Linked DNA regions of Homo sapiens. The protein of the gene in region 1 purifies or fractionates together with the protein of each later gene. This does not show direct contact. Each region holds a gene or a part of one and is shown in the gene's direction. Other genes may lie near its edges.

The links.
Region 2: the proteins of FGF8 (region 1) and CWC22 purify together in Homo sapiens (co-immunoprecipitation; 3 studies listed by BioGRID and IntAct, with this or other methods). This does not show direct contact.

Annotation. Positions count from the first base shown.
Region 1 is NC_000010.11:101,768,482-101,774,183, reverse strand, and holds the end of FGF8 (fibroblast growth factor 8 isoform F precursor), read left to right. Parts: intron 1-2,607; exon of another isoform or gene 2,608-2,614; coding exon 2,615-2,721; intron 2,722-3,487; exon of another isoform or gene 3,488-3,564; coding exon 3,565-3,855; 3' UTR 3,856-4,075; downstream 4,076-5,702. UniProt on the Homo sapiens protein: Plays an important role in the regulation of embryonic development, cell proliferation, cell differentiation and cell migration. Required for normal brain, eye, ear and limb development during embryogenesis.
Region 2 is NC_000002.12:179,972,578-179,977,412, reverse strand, and holds part of CWC22 (pre-mRNA-splicing factor CWC22 homolog), read left to right. Parts: intron 1-3,610; coding exon 3,611-3,779; intron 3,780-4,166; coding exon 4,167-4,220; intron 4,221-4,835. UniProt on the Homo sapiens protein: Required for pre-mRNA splicing as component of the spliceosome. As a component of the minor spliceosome, involved in the splicing of U12-type introns in pre-mRNAs. Promotes exon-junction complex (EJC) assembly.

The DNA of each region.
Region 1 (5,702 bases):
GCAAGTGCGGAGAGCTACTGCCGGCAGAGAGGCTGAGGACTGATTGATTTCTAAAACATTCAATATTCCTGCCTTGAAACGGGGCCAATTTCCAGAGTCCTGGATGTACCAAGAGAAAAGCAAGCCCTCTGGGCGGCTGGTGTTGTTTTTAGAGAGCGATTATTGTGAGTTTAAAAACCTTTAAATAATGACCACGTTAAACAAGCATGAAAGGAGAGGGGAAGACTCTATTAAAATGTAATAAAAAGGTGAGGCATTTTAAGAGCTAAGAAGAAAAATGAAGAATGATATAAAACAGAAAAAGAACGAGCTTTTTTTCAGATGTGGAGTTTGAAAGGAGTTGCAAGTCTGTAAATGTTAAAAAAGAGGTTCAAGATTGTTCTCTCTGAATCTCTGGAGAGACCCCTGCGTCTGGCAGAGCGATTAAAACTCTTCTTACTTTCACCTTTTTTAACATTTCCTGAATACTTTCTCCTCTTCTTGAGCCAGTTTGGGGGATCGAGTATGTCTCGCTGCATTTTTTCTGCATCGACGTAGCTGACTTCCCTTCAAAGCTGGAGGAGACATAATTTTCCTGGGATAAATCTGTCACTGGGGTGGAAGAATAGGTTTGAAAATGTTAAGCTTTCCAAAAGCCCGGTCGGGAGAGCTGCCGTAAACTGCGGCCCCAGCTCCCCAGATCGGAGCAGATTCAACCGACATGGGAGAGAGCGGGCTTTCTGGGGTGGGGGTGGGGGCGGCCTGCCTGGTGGCCGAGCTCCCCTACTGGGCTGGCAGAGCAGGCCTACCATCCCTTTGTCCCTCCAAATTAGCTGCTTGCTGCCCTTCTCAGCTTCTAAGGAGAGGAGACGAATGCCTGGCTCTTCCAGGGTTTGCTCTGTCAGAGCAAATGGCCCAGCATCCTTGGATTTCGGGGAGGGAAGCAGAAGTCAAGCTGGTGTGGGGGAATTCATCTTCAGACATCAGAGGAAGCCTGATGTCCACTTCTCTCCGTGGCCATATAAGAGGTTTCCCGCCTTCCCTAGTCCCTGCCCCACAGCAGGATAGGAGCTGGAGGCCCTAAGAACAGAGGCTCAGGGTGTTCAGCCAGGACAGGAGTAGTCCGGGGAGAATAGCAGAGAGGTCTCAATGGCTTCTTTACCGGCCCCAGGAAGATGCAGAGGCACCTACTTCATCCCTGCCTGCCGCATCTGGCCAGAATCCCCAGAGTGGCATCCTCTCACTCCTCCAGTCAGCATCCTTCCTGGCCCTTAAAAATAGCTGCCTCTTGCTGTGGAAGGCAGAGCGGGAGAGGGATGAGCAGACTGGCTAGGTCCAGGAGGAGGTGGGCAGGCAGGGAGGTGACAGCTGCATTTCCCTGCTGACTTGGGGCCAAACCGGGGGCTTGGCCACTGGTCCCAGCACTGAGCCTGTGTGAAGCGGGGAACATTACAAGCTGAGCAGTGATGACTGACTTGCTGACCTCGATGCCCCAAACCCCTGCCATGGGTTTCAGGGACAGAGGAGGTGCCATATGTCAATGCAGGCTAAGTCCAAGAACTGCTTTCTCAGGGAGGGGAGAGGCTGGGCTCTGCGGCAGGGACGGCAGGAGAGCCAGCGCCTTCTGTCCCTTCCTAAACAGTGAAGTCACCCTCACTACTTTCTTGAGGACAGCCTATAAGAGATGATTGCACAGAGAGGTGAACAGGACAGGCTTCTGTGGCAAGTTGGCTGTCTAAGGGGAGGGGAATGGGAAAGGAGGCATAGAATTCAGCCCTGCCTCCTGGCCTCCAGTCTAAGAGGCCAGCAGGCAGGATTCTCCCTCCTCCTCACCCACAGAAGCTATTTGGTCACTGGGCTGAGAAGCCCAGCTGTGATGAGGCTGAAAGAGAAAAGACAATTGAGTTGTTGATTTCTAGACACTGGGCTGGGGACCCTGGTGACTGGGAAGCCACAGGGAAGAGGCAGGATCCTCCTGGCAGGTGTCTGAGGTTCTGGGAAAGCAGCCTGCTTTGGGCTGTGTGTTTAGGGAGAGCTGTCCCCATCCCTAGCACCTTCTCAGCAGAGCAGAGCCTGGTGATGTTGAGGGGCTGGGGGTGGCCAAAGCTGTGAGTTAGAACCCAAAGTGGCAGAAACAGGAGACAATGCTTTCATCTTTGGCCTTGGGACTGGAGGTCACCCCTTCACCCAAGTGTTTGTAATGACCTGTGAGACACGCACACATAATATTTGGAGTTGGAAGGATCCTCGGAGATCTTTTGATTAGCTATGGAACTCTGATTCAATTAAATTTTACTTAGATCCTCAATCTAAGAGACATCACTGTCTGGTTTAAAAAGAGGGTGGAAGGAATGGCACTTCAGCCTTTTCAATTTGATAGTCCCAAGACCTCTCTTGAGAACCCAGTTTGAAAACCATAATCCCGTCCACTGCCCTCTGTAAACCCAGGGGTGGGGCCCGAGGTCCAGAAAAGCCCTTTCTCTGGGTTGCACAGCATGTTAGTAGCTGGGCTGGAGCTGGAGTCCATGTTTTGGGTTCCTGGTCTTTGGAGCAGTTGCTGCTGGGCTGTGACAAGTGTGTGGGCCAGCTGGGGTCAGGGATCTGCCAATAGCCATCCTGCTACCTTCTCTGACAGCAAAGCTCATCGTGGAGACGGACACCTTTGGAAGCAGAGTTCGAGTCCGAGGAGCCGAGACGGGCCTCTACATCTGCATGAACAAGAAGGGGAAGCTGATCGCCAAGGTGAGGCCCCAGCAGGCAGGTGGGGTCCGCGGGACCTAGGGAGTGGCTTGGGCTGGCTGGACTCCTCCAAGACAGTCCTGGGCTCTGATCCCAACAAGGTAGGCAGAAGGCCACAGGGCCATCTTGGGGTTACCTCACGATTGGGTGCAGGAGTGAGGGAGAAGGAAGCTGTTTGAGAGATGAAAACTATAAAAGGCGAAGGAGGAAGAATGAAGGCTAGGGAAGGGGCTGGGGGGTGGTGGTTGGTAAATTCCATATATCTTTTTAACAAATCGCCAAATTGCTTTGCTATTATGTCCAATTACATGGTACCAGCATTTGGAATGTTCAGTAAGCCGCAGGCCCAGCCCCTCGGCCGAGCTCTGAAATGGCTCCATTAGTCACGGCTCCTCTCCAGCCTCGAGCTCCCCACTTCCTGGGCTTCTGGGGCTGGGGTCTTAGCATCTTCTCCCAGGCCTCCCCTCCCCCATAGGGTGGCTGCCCTGGGGCCAGGGAACCGAAGTCCTGGGGGGGTGAGAGGGGCAGGTGGGGAGACGGGTGGCCAGACTGGTGGGCAGGAGGCCAGAGCAGGCCAGGCTCTGGGCCCCTCTCTCTGTCTTTCTGCGTTGGGGCCCAGCCCCTCCGTAGACAACCATGTGTCACTGCTGCCTGGGAGGACAGGAAGTTGCCGGGTGGGCTGCGAGTTGTGAGGGATTAGAGAGCGGGTGCCCAGGCAGGGGGTGGGGCTGCGGCTCCTGCCCACCTCGCCATCTGCTGGGGTGCCCACCTGCTGTCTGGGGCCGCTCGCCCTCTGCCTCTGCTGGGGGGGCTCTGTAACGTGGTGTCTGGCTCCCCTACCTGCAGAGCAACGGCAAAGGCAAGGACTGCGTCTTCACGGAGATTGTGCTGGAGAACAACTACACAGCGCTGCAGAATGCCAAGTACGAGGGCTGGTACATGGCCTTCACCCGCAAGGGCCGGCCCCGCAAGGGCTCCAAGACGCGGCAGCACCAGCGTGAGGTCCACTTCATGAAGCGGCTGCCCCGGGGCCACCACACCACCGAGCAGAGCCTGCGCTTCGAGTTCCTCAACTACCCGCCCTTCACGCGCAGCCTGCGCGGCAGCCAGAGGACTTGGGCCCCCGAGCCCCGATAGGTGCTGCCTGGCCCTCCCCACAATGCCAGACCGCAGAGAGGCTCATCCTGTAGGGCACCCAAAACTCAAGCAAGATGAGCTGTGCGCTGCTCTGCAGGCTGGGGAGGTGCTGGGGGAGCCCTGGGTTCCGGTTGTTGATATTGTTTGCTGTTGGGTTTTTGCTGTTTTTTTTTTTTTTTTTTTTTTTAAAACAAAAGAGAGGCTCTATTTTTGTATTCCACTTGGCTGTGGTGTCTGTCTTCTTAACTCTCAGAAAGCTCCATTAGTGGCCTAGACTGGGATTCCGGCTGGGGGTTTGCGGGGGTGGGGGGCTTTCTCTAGCCTGTGCTGCTGAGGCCCCAGTACCTCCAGGGCCAGTTGGCTGGGCAGCCAGGGACTCCACTGCACCCCCAGGTGGGGCAGGGAGGAAAGGACTGTGACATAGGGCAGTCCTCTTAGAAGTGGGTATCAGACTGGTGGCTATTAAATGATTGAAATATTTATTTAACTTGCATATTAAAAATGTGTGCTGGAGAGTGAGTCCTGCCGGGGTCAGCCCCTCCCTCCAACCTTGCCCCAGCTGGTGGGCGGCTGGGAGACGCAGATGACCAGGTGCCAGCTCTGACCACAGCCTCCCTCCAGCCTAAAGACACCTGCCTGTCAACCATCCCCATCACTGTCACTTGAGGGGTTTTCCTGCAAGGACAGAAGCAGGGAAAGGGGCAAGAAGAGGCTCTTAGCTAGTCCTTGGAGCTCTCAGATGTGTACCTCCTAGCACTTTACAGAGGTCATTGCTAACACTTCCCCAGGCCACCTCAGGGCCAGAAATAATGGATGTGCTAGGGCTAGAGCTGTAATCATGGATTTAATCCTCTTAAAAAGTGCTTCTCTGAGTGCCTAGGTCCATGTGGGAGACAGGTTGGAGATTCCAGAACTTGCTCTTTCTGAGACTCAGGCTCCAGAAAATGAAAGAAAAGAGCAGCTGCCAGGGTCCAAGGTGGGGGCATATTGGAGGGGGACCACCAAGACTGGTGTTGACAATGGTGATGTGGGACAAGTGTTAACCTTGGGTGATATGGTGAGATAGCTGTGGGCAGAAAGCACTGAGCTGAGGTGCGGTGAGGAGCCTGGGGAACTGTCTTCCAGGAAGAGGCTGCCCACCTCGGAGGATGGGCCTGGCGGGAGAGGAGCTGGGCACCGGATGGCACCAGAAGGGAAGCTCATAGGCCTAGCGCAGAACTAAAGGCAGTCATAGCCTTGGGGAGAAGCAGGAGGCCGTATGTGGAGGGAGGGAGGGCTGCTGTGGGAGTGGTGGAGCAGGTCATGGTGTGGGCAGAGAAGGGAATGGGCAAGGGTGCAGGTGTGTGTTTGCGTGTGGACTGGTGAGACTGGTGTCCTGCCACACCGAGGGAGAGCCCAGGCCCCACGGCAGTTTCCTGAGTGCAGAGCTGGCCCAGGCTTCATCGCTGAGGCCTCCCATTAGGGCTGCTCCTGCTTCCTTCCTTGTGGATGCCCTGGGCTGGTCCCACAGCCCAGCTACTGAGCCAGTCTAGAAACCTCGCTCCTCTAGGACTCTGTCCATTGGCATCTCCTGGGGTAGGGAGCAACCCAAGGCTTCCTCCCACAGTTTCAGGCCCAAGTCCCAGGTTTAGCCCACCCCGGCAGATCAGGAATTTCGAGGCTTAGTGGGAAGCCCGGCAGTAAAGGCTGGCCTGTCCAGCCACCTCTCGTGGCCTGCCACAGGCGGTGAGGGGCTCTGGAGAGAGTGGGTTTCTGCTGGTGCGTAGACACTGGATGTAGCGAAGGGGCCCTAGATGTCTCTCTTCCAGTTCCCCCAGCTCTTAGCGCCTCCTCCTCTGCTCCCTTCC
Region 2 (4,835 bases), on another chromosome or scaffold:
AAATGACAGGATTTCCTTTATGGTTGAATAGTATTCCATTATACATGTATACATTTTCTTTATCCATTTATTCACAACAGACACTTTAGTTGTTTCCATATTTTCACCATTGTGAATAATGCTGCAATAAATGTGGGAGTGCAGATACCTCTTCAACATACTGATCTCATTTTCTTTGTATATATACCCAATAGTGGGATTGCTGGATCAAATGGTAGTTACAATAAAAAAAAATTTTTTTTATATTGATTTATTTTAGAGATGGGGGTCTTGCTTTATTGTCAGGCCGGAGTACAGTGCATGGTCATAGTTCACTGCCCCCTTGAATTGCTGGGCTCAAGGAATTCTCTCACCTCAGCATCCTAAGTAGCTGGGACCGCAAGCACTCACCACCACACTGGGCTAATTTTTTAATATTTTGTAGAGAATGAGGTCTTGCCATCTTGCCCAGGCTGGTCTCGTACTCTTGAGCTCAAGCAGTCCTCCCGACTTGGCTTCCCAAAGTGTTGGTATGACAGGCGTGAGCCACCGCACCTGGCTGGTAATTCTGTTTTTAATATTTTAAGGAACCTCTATACTATTTTCATAATGGCTGTACTAATTTATATTTCTACCAACAGTGTACAAGCATTCTCTTTTCTCCATGTCCTTGGCAACACTTGCTATTTTTCATCTTTTTTATTACAGCCATTGTAACAGTTGTGAGATGTCTCATTGTGGTTTTAATTTGTATTTCTTTGATAATTGGTGAGGTTTAGCATTTCATATATATATATATGCTATTTGTACATCTTTTGAAAAATGTCTGTTCTTGTTTGCTCATTTTTTAGATTGGGTTATTTGTTTTCTTACTATTGAGTTGAATGCCTAATGTGTTTTGGATATTAACCCCTTATCAGGTGTATGTTTGCAAATGTTTTCTCCCATTCTGTAGGTCATCTCTTCACTCTGTTGATATTTTCCTGTGCTGTGCAGAAGCATTCTAGTTTTATGTAATCCCATTTGTCTCTTTTTGCTTTTGTTGCCTGTGCTTTAGGGGTCATATCCAAAAAATCATTAACCATACCAGTGTCTCAGAGCTTTTCCTTTGTATTTTTCTTTTAGAAACTTATAGTAGTTTCACAGTTTCAGGTCTAATGTTTAAGTCTTTAATCTGTTTTGCGTTGATGTTTGTATATGCTGTGGGACTAAGGTCTATTTTCATTCTTCTGCATCTGGGTATTCTGTTTTCTTGGCACCATTTATTGAAGACACTGTCTTTTCCCTATTGTGTCTTCTTAGCATCTTTGTCGAAAATCAGTTGACTGCCAATGTCTGGATTTATCTCTGGTTTCTTTGTTCTCTGTAGCTCTATGTGTCTGTTTTTATACTATTGTCATTCTGTTTTGATTACTATAACTTTGTAGCAGATTCCAGGTCAGGGAGTGTGATGCCTCCAGCTTTGTTCTTTTTGTTCAAGATTGCTGTGGCTATTTGGAGTTTTTTGTGGTTCCATGTGAGTTTTAGGATTGTTTTTTCTATTTCTGTGAAAAACGTAACTGGAATTTTGATAGGGATTGAGTCCAGTCTGTATGTTGCTTTGGGTACTGTGGACATTTTAACATATTATTTCAGTCCATGGACATGGGATGTCATGCATGTTCTTCCATTTTTTCATCAGCAATTTGTAGTTTTTAGTGTACAGCTCTTTCATCTCCATGGTTAGATTTATTCCTAACTTTTTTTTTCATAGCTATTGTAAATGGGATGTTTTCTTGATTTTTCAGAAAGATAGTTCATTGTAAGCATATGGAAGCACTACTGATTTTTGTATGTTGATTTTGTGTCTGCAGCTTTACTAAATTAGTTTATTAGTTCTAACAATTTTTTGGTTAAGTCTTTAGGGTTTTCTATATTAAGATCCTGTTTACAGCAAACAGGCTTCTCTATTTTTGATTTGGATACCTTTTATTTCTTTCTCTTGCCTAATGGCTCTGGCTAGGACTTCTAGTACTATGTTGAATAGAATTGGAAAGAGTAGGCACCCTTTTCTTATTCCTGATCCTAGAGGAAAAGCTTTCAGCTTGTCACCGTTGAGTATATTAGCTATGGGTTCGTCATATATGGCCTTTATTCCAATTTAATTTCTAGTGAGAGTGAAATGGGAATGTGAGAGAAATGGGAAAGATGAGCAATACATTTTAGAAAAGCAGAAGGGAATCACCGTATTCTATAAGAATATGTGGCTTTAAGCAATTGGTGATATTTAAAAGGGTCAGAAAATAGAATTACTCCATGTTGTATTTATTATTTTAAAATCTGAGGGCTGTTTTCTCATGTCATTTTACATGACTATGATTCATCTTTAAAAAAATATGGAATGTAGTGGCCAGGCACGGTCGCTGTAATCCTAGCCTGTAATCCTAGCACTTTGGGAGCCTGAGGCAAGAGGACCACTTGAGTCCAGGAGTTGCCTGGGCAACATTGTGAAAACCTGTCTCTATGAAAAATACAAAAATTAGCTGGGCGTGGTGGCACACAGTAGTCCCAGCTCCTCCGGAGGCTGAGGTGGGAGGATTGCTTGAGCCCAGGAGGCAGAGCTTCCAGTGAGCCAAGATCGCCCCACTGCACTCCTGCCTGGGTGACAGAGTGAGACCCTGTCTCTCCCCAACCTCTCCAAAAAAGGTGGGGGTATAAAGTAGGAGCAGCAAGTTTTAGAGGTAGAGAAAGTTGATCAAGAGACAGCCATTATCCTCAAAAGTGGGCAGAGATCTCTCCAATTTACTTAGAAAAAAAGTAGACTTAGAAGAGTTATGGATTGCTAAAGATACTATAATTTATAAGCTGCATCCTTTTTCTTATTTTCCACTCTAGTGATTCAGTTGTCATATCTAAAACTACCATTAAGACTTTTTTTCCTGACTTTTGGCAATCCAATAATTACTTGTCATTACATTGCTAAAAGTAACTTTAGTTTGCCCAATTTGCCTTTCCCCTTCCTCATCAAATGCATATAGAAACATGACCATTTTCAAAATGAGTTACAAGTAGGTACCTTTTAATTTCCTGTTACTGTTTTAGCATTAATCTGGCATTGCTTTTAATTCGTTTCTTTATTTCTCACAGGAGTATTCCACATCTTCATTTTATTCTACTAAAATTAGACTTAAAGATTTAAACCCAAATTTGTCTTTAATCACAAAATTAATTTTATAAAAATGACAGATCTGTAGTAGAAACTTTATGTTATCTACCTTTTATACTTTTGAAGCAGGTCTGCTTTTGTTTACTTTTTAAAAAATGTTAAAGAAATTATTTATATGAACCTTTTTAAGGTTCAAATTCATGATTAGATATAACAGACTGGGAAAAGAGGAATTATATGTAGAGAGAAAAATTTTGGTGATAAATTGCAGTAAAATCTTCATTCTATTTTACAAAATCACAAATTCACATTTCGTTTTCTGAAAAACAATTTTTATTTATTAGTAAGACAAACTCTTTCCAGTTAGTTCTGATTTAGATTTTATGATTACTTATAGAGAAATATTACTGAATTTTAATAGTTTTTGTTTCGTTTAATTAATTTGGTGATTATTGTTGACTCCTTTTTAAATTCTTTTTTAAACAGAGGACTGCTGTCCAGGTCTGTTTTGCAAGCACAGAGTGCTTCTCCAATCTTCACCCATGTTTATGCAGCATTAGTGGCAATTATCAACTCAAAATTTCCACAAATTGGAGAATTAATCCTCAAAAGGTTAATTCTTAATTTTCGAAAAGGCTATCGAAGAAATGACAAGGTATATATGAATGGCTTGTAAGTAGAATGATACATAGGAACAAACTAACAAACCAGTATCAACAAAAGTAAGCAAGGTTGATTTTGACACAGCTACATAACATAATGCTTTTTAAAAACTGTCTTTCATGAGAACTTCTTTGATCTGTTAAATATCCCTGGCCACTATTGATGAGCCACAAAAATGATGGCTATAACTGTAGAACTATAACTATTTAACCAGAAGGGATACTCTTTCATGTGTTTTATTTTGTAACTTTCTTATAATGTAAAAATTATACTTGTGTGGTACATGTTTTAAATAGATGATGTTAGTAGGCCATAGATTATGTAAATAAATGAAAATTGGGTTTAGTTTATAGGTTAACTTTCCACCTTTATTTTTCAGCAACTTTGCCTGACTGCTTCAAAATTTGTGGCGCATCTTATTAACCAAAATGTGGTAAGTAATTATCTTCAATACTTGGTCCCATTCAGTGGCATTAGACCAGAGGGTTGATGCCACTTCACTGATACCTCTCTATTTTTGCTTTGCTTTATAGTCCTTGGGATAAAAATGTTGGATGATATTTTCATTTTAAAACTATAATAAATATATTTAATGTTCTTTTTTTTTTTCTTTTTTTGAGATGGAGTCTCACTCTGTCGCCCAGGCTGGAGTGCAGTGGCACAATCTTGGCTCACTGCAAGCTCTGCCTCCTGGGTTCACACCATTCTCCTGCCTCAGCCTCCCGAGTAGCTGGGACTACGGGCACCTGCCACCACGCCCGGCTAGTTTTTTTTGTATTTTTAGTAGAGACGGGGTTTCACCATGTTAGCCAGGATGGTCTCGATCTCCTGAACTCGTGATCCACCAGCCTCGGCCTCCCAAAGTGTTGAGATTACAGGTGTGAGCCACCACGCCTGGCCATATTTAATATTCTTTAATATAACACTTTGATGCTGATCAAAACACTTTAGATATTTATCAAATTAATCTGACTTAATACTGTACATGGTTACTTGACTGCAAACCATTCCTTTGAAGAACCATTCCCTTCATTTTTATAAAACAATA